Regions from separate parts of the Homo sapiens genome. Here region 1 is linked to region 2. The links come from fine-mapping of genetic effects on gene expression. A gene starts in region 2. The other region holds a variant in brackets. All regions are shown on one strand. Distances are from middle to middle. Region 1 overlaps AP2B1 (adaptor related protein complex 2 subunit beta 1). Region 2 holds the start of PEX12 (peroxisomal biogenesis factor 12).

Region 1 (2,920 bases), 21 kb after region 2:
CGTGAGGTCAAAGCTGTTTTCATAATAATACTTAGATGTTACTTGCCTTTTTCACTATTTGGATGTTTACAGTGATGGTGCAAAGCAGTGGTGGGTAAAACTGCTGGTGCCTCAGCATGAATGAAGGCAGTGGTGCCAACCATAATGGTAGTCATTGTATTCCTTAACACCATGTGCTAAAAAAGAGCAGTTTCACTTAGGAATGTCCTTCATGAGCAGTAAAAATTTGTTTTATTAAAACTTGAACCTTTTTAATATTGTGTTTGATGAAATAGGGATTACCCATAAATCTCTTCTGCTGCGTAGCAGTGCAATGGTCGACTTGAGAAAAAACCCTTGTGCAGTTGTTTGAACTGCAAACACCATTTTTATGTGAAAGAATGATTGACAGACAAACTATATTTAATCAGACTTTGGTATTTGGGAGATATTTTATTCAAAAATGAACAAAGTGAACCTGTCACTTCAAGGGAAAAAAATTGACAATGGATACGTTTCAGGTTTTAAAGTAAAAAATTAGAATTTTGGAAAATTTGTATCTCCCATCATAAGCTTGACAGCTTCCTAATGCTTAAAGACTTTTCTGAGGAGATTGGTGGTGAAATTAATGATTGTGATTATTTGCTGTTTTATAATGAAATGTGTCAGCATAGCTCAGTGAACCAATATTTTTCCAAATGACCAGAGCATATGTATATCACAAAATTATGCATGGATAAAAGATCTATTCGAAATAAAGTGTGGAGGCCAGGCGTGGTGGCTCACGGTTGTGATCCCAGTATTTTGGGAGGCCGAGGCAGGCGGATCACTTGAGGGCAGGAGTTCGAGACTAGGCTAGCCAACATGGTGAAATTCTGTCTCTACTAAAAAAAAATACAAAAAAATTAGCCGGGCATGGTGGCATGTGCCTGTAATCCCAGCTACTCTAGAGGCTGAGGCAGTAGAATTGCTTGAACTCAGGAGGCGGAGGTTGCAGTGAGCCAGGATTGTGCCACTGCACTCCAGCTTAGGCAACAGAGTAAGACTCTGTCTCAAAAATCAAAAAACAAAAAAACAAAATAGAATGTAAATGAATGGATTTTAATACAATCAAGTACAAAAAGTTTATCGATACGGCTTCAGATTCTATATTGCAACTAACTTTTAAGAAACTACAGTGTGTGGACTCAGAAAGAGGAAAACAACCATTTGTCTAGTTTTATTTATTTATCATTATTTTTTTTGAGACAG[A/G]GTCTTACTCTGTCACCCATACTGGAGTGTAGTGACGTTATCTTGGCTCACTGCAACCTCCGCCTCCCAGGCTCAAGCGGTTCTCCTGCCTCAGCCTCCCAAGTAGCTGGGATTACAGGCGTGCACCACTACCACCCGGCTAATTTTTGTATTTTTAGTAGAGACGGGGTTTCACCATGTTGGCCAGGCTGGTCTCGAACTCCTGACCTCAAATGATCTACCTGCCTTGGCCTCACAAAACTGCTGGGATTACAGGCATGAGCCACTGTTCCCGGGCTGTCTAGTTTTAGTGTAACATCAAGAATTTCTAGTTATAACAAAAAAAAAAAGAAAATAAGGAATATGTAGTTATATGAAAAAGCTATTAAAATATTATTTCCTTTTCCGAGTTATATACGTGTATGAAGCTGGATTTTCTTCTTATATTTCAAAACAACATTCTACAAAAGGTTGAATGCAGGAACTTATGAGAATCTAGCTGTTTTTATTTCAAGTAGATATTAAAGAGAGTTGCAAAAAAATAAAAAAGCAGTGTCACCATCTCATTAATTTAAAAACAGTACATTTTACCTTTAAAATGTTATGAAATGGGTTTATTCTTATTTTAATGGATTAACTTTTTAAAAATTTCTCAGTTTTAATTCCTGACATGGTAAAATATCAATAGGTATATAACCCACATGAACAAAAACTCTTTGGGATGTCAGTAATTTTTAAGAGTATGAAGGGATCCCGAGACCAAAAAGGTGAGGGCTGCTTCCCTAACCAGACGGGGAGCCCAGATAGAAATGGCAGCGTAGGAAATGACTCTGTATCTTCTCTTGCTCCAGGTGCTGCTCTTCTGAGGTGAATTTTTGTTATTTTTCTTTTGTTTGTTAGCACATAAAGCACATTTGGTTTTTAAATTGCTGTCCTGTGACCATCTATCTAAGGAGTTGGCAAACGTTTTTGTAAAGGACAAAATAGTAAGTACATCAGGCTGGCATAGTAAGTACTCTTTGCTTAGCAGGCAAAGAGGCAAAATTGAGTTTGGTAGGTAGGTACTTACATAACAAGAGAGAAGACAAATTTCCACAAATTTTTTATTGAGGATATTCAAAATAAAATAATAGTTAAGTATAATGTTTTGTACCACAGGTATACTATTAAGTGGGATTCTTTTTGGGGGATGATAACATTTTGCGTAATTAGGATTCATAGTATTTTTCATCATCAGATTTGTTTTATTTATTTATTGTTTTGAGATGGAGTCTTGCTCCATCACTCAGGCTGGAGTGCAGTGGCGCAATCTCGGCCCACTGCAGCCTCTGCCTCCCGGGTTCAAGGGATTCTCCTGCCTCAGCCTCCTGAGTAGCTGGTACTGTATATGCACCTGCCATCACTCCTGGCTGACGCCAAGTGATCCGCCTGCCTTGGCCCCCCGAAGTGTTGGGATTACAGGCATGAGCCACCATGCCCGGCCAAGATTCATATAGATGAACACTTAGTTCATCTATAAAAACCACTTTTAGCTCATGGATTGTACAAAAATCCAGCATTGGGCTAGATTTAACCCACAGGCGGTAGTTGCCTATCTGTGATCTGTCTAGTCACTGAAGGGCTGTTTTTGCCAAAGAATAAATCTGGATTGAAAACATCAGTACAAACGAATTGGTAAAAATTGTCATAACTCTTTTTTTTTTTTTTTTGA
Region 2 (2,920 bases):
GATCTAGCAGAGTAAAGATTTCATCAAACCACCTCCACAAGAAGCCATAGTGGGTGGGATTTGATTCTGCAAGAACCTAAAGCAAAATAAAGCAATAAGTGAAATTCATTCCATTACACAAGTTCTACACCTATTTACATTCCCCCTTTTCCTCTAAAGTCTACACAATTTGTTTTAAATAAGTCACTGTTGGACCCTGAAATGCTGGGTATTCAGTACAGGTCTCTACACATAACAGAGACTCAGTAACTCTTAAGTCATGGGATACAAGTTATTTGCAAATTGGCTATTTCAAACGCTAGGCTACCAAATAAGCACAAATTATTCGTTTGTTTTTTACCCAGTTGTCCCTAAAACCTTTCCAAGAATTAATACCTTACCTTGACCACATGCTGAAGAGCGGGTCTCACTGCTGTCATTAAACTGTCCTGTGCTACCACCTCAAAGATGGATGGCTGGTCATCGGCCACAGAAGCAGCTGTGAAGTGAGCCCCGTGCTCAGCCATAGTTTCCTGCGTGTACTGGCTTTCACTTTTCCCACAAACTCTCTCGTGAGCATGAACTTTTTCGGGAGGAAGAGTATCAGATGGGTGCTCAGTCTTAAAGGTAAACTTTCTGCATGATATCTGAAACTCGAAACTCAATCTTATGGGCAAAAATGAACTGGGAAAAAAAGACCTGGAGGCCGAGGGTAGTCTCAAGAAGGTTAAGAACAAAGTTAACTCGGACGTGGGTGGAAGTAGTATGTGGCGAGGGGGTAACTTGTCAAATGCTGCACGTCAGGGCAGAGCGTGACTGTGGGGGACAGGTATGGGGGAAGGAACGCAATCCTCTGGAGCTGCGAACCAGAAACGCCCCCTCCTCCCCAATCGTGAGAGCTCAAAAGCCAGCCGACTCTGAGGATTCAGTCGTGCCACTGTGAGCCCGGGACACAAGGGCTGACTCCAGCTGTTGGCTTTGAGTATCCCCGCCCGCGCCCGTCCTTGCTCGCTGACCCCAGGCGAGGCGCAAACAACCCACGACGCCACGTTTGAAGGGAGGTCTCCGCTTTATGACAGAAGCCGCACCCGGAAATGAAACCACCAGGACCTCTGGGATGCCTGGCGGAAGAGAGGCGCTCTAGTTCCGAATGCGGTCCGGAAACCAGAACTAGAGAACTCTATGACCCACCTGAGCTTCCGCTCCCGCCCCGCTGAAACAGAAGAGGGCCCTTGTGGGCTGGTTTTGGCTAGTTTGGTTTACTTTTCGTAGCTGGGTCTGCATGGTAGCCTCGCTGGAAAGCTACAGCTCTGAACCTCTCTCTGCGAGGTCTTTTTGACAAGCTGTTTGGGGCACCGCGCAGACGTCTGGCGCCGGGAGCCAGAGCTCGGGCCCGTTGCTGAGCCCTGTGTTCCTGCAGGCGATGAAGCTAGGGGCGGTGGGAGGAAGGGAATCTGGAGGTGGAAAGGACTTTGCTGTACGCGTGCGGCAGGGATGGTGGTTAATTTATATGTCTTAGCCTTCCAGAAATGATTTAAAGCGACATAGCAGGAGATAGGAGCCTTAGATTTATTGCCGCCAATTATAAGGAAAGATGATTGGATTGAGAAAGGTTCATGCTTGTTCCTCAGTACTTGAGACGGTTAATTTTCATCCAAGCTGGTAGTTTAACGTCTTCCAGGTTTTGGCTATATTCAAGCATAACTGCATGCACTTGCTATACTGGATGAAAATGGTCTCCATCCTTGAACACAGTTGTATATGTCACCACCAGCGATATGAATACAGTACTAACGCAGAGGGAGCTTTATGAATTGTAACTAGCATGCACTGGGGACACTTGACAGAAAGTTTCCTTTCATGCCGTTTTTATACCAAAATGAATGTGATTTACCTTAAGGTTTGTAAAGTGCTTTTATGTTATGTACAGCTTTGTCTCGCTGAAGTTGGCTGACACAGCCTTATTGAATTTGGATGAGAGTTCCACCTCTCCTCCCTTCCTCTGGGAAGTGCCACCTCTGGGCTAAATAGCTGGGAATAGAAGGTATTGTTTACTGCCCTAGAGGCCCTTATGTTATAAAAATAATTGGTTTGCATAATGAGAACCCTCAAAAACAAGGTTTGGATTTAGTTATTCCAATAGGAGAGAAAACCTTACAAATTGTCCTTAATTATAGTTATAAAAAGTGTTTTTTACTCTACCAAAAGACATTATATTGATATATGATTTTTACCTTACAGAGTTTTAAGACTAGACATAGTTTATCCATATGAAGCACCTGGATACATATTAGGTGCTTGTTTAATAGTAACTGTTATGTACAAGCTTTTCTTAAGTGAATAGCAAAAATACAAAGTTGAGAGGTAGCATCAACTAAATCAAGCAGGAAATTAAACATTTTTGTCACTTAGGGATCTTTGGTTACAAGCAACAGAAACAAACAGGCTAATTTAAACTAAAACGGAATTTATTAGAAGTGTATGGAGTAGCTCACAAAATAAGTAAAGCCAGCCCTGAAAGAACAGGAACTTAACAATACTATTGGGACTGCCTAACAGGAATTAGAAGTTCTTATCCAGGCAACGTTGTTGCAGTGAACGAGCTTCCACCAATTTCTGTTTGTGACTCTGCTCGTGATACAAATTTTGACTGACCTCTCTTGGTTCAAGTTCCCTCTCCACCCTGTCTTTCACTCTTAGCCAGGGGAAGGCAGGATGTCTTGATTGATAGTCCCATGGAAGTACTCCAAAAGTTAACTAAACGTATGGCATAAGAACGCCTATAATCCCAGCACTTTGGGAGGCCGAGGCGGGTGGATCACCTGAGGTCAAGAGGTCATGACCAGCCTGACCAACATGGAGAAACCCAGTCTGTACTAGAAATACAAAAAATTAGCTGGGTGTGGTGGCACATACCTGTAATCCCAGCTACTCGGGAGGC

What was found. PIP is the estimated chance that this variant, and not a neighbour inherited with it, causes the effect.
Region 1: its variant is the best candidate, but not a certain one, in a credible set for the expression of PEX12 in lung (TOPMed, PIP 0.81).

Annotation. Positions count from the first base shown.
Region 1 is chr17:35,598,877-35,601,796 of GRCh38, forward strand. The region is part of intron 3 of AP2B1 (adaptor related protein complex 2 subunit beta 1); the gene reads left to right. Among named protein-coding and RNA genes, the nearest start is that of AP2B1, 13 kb to the left of the region's middle. The variant A/G (reference allele first, on the strand shown) is at 1,231.
Region 2 is chr17:35,577,516-35,580,435 of GRCh38, forward strand. It overlaps PEX12 (peroxisomal biogenesis factor 12), which reads right to left and starts at 1,056. Exons shown (of 3, transcript NM_000286.3): 1 at 381-1,056; 2 at 1-76. The coding sequence starts at 506. RefSeq lists an enhancer at 320-1,135.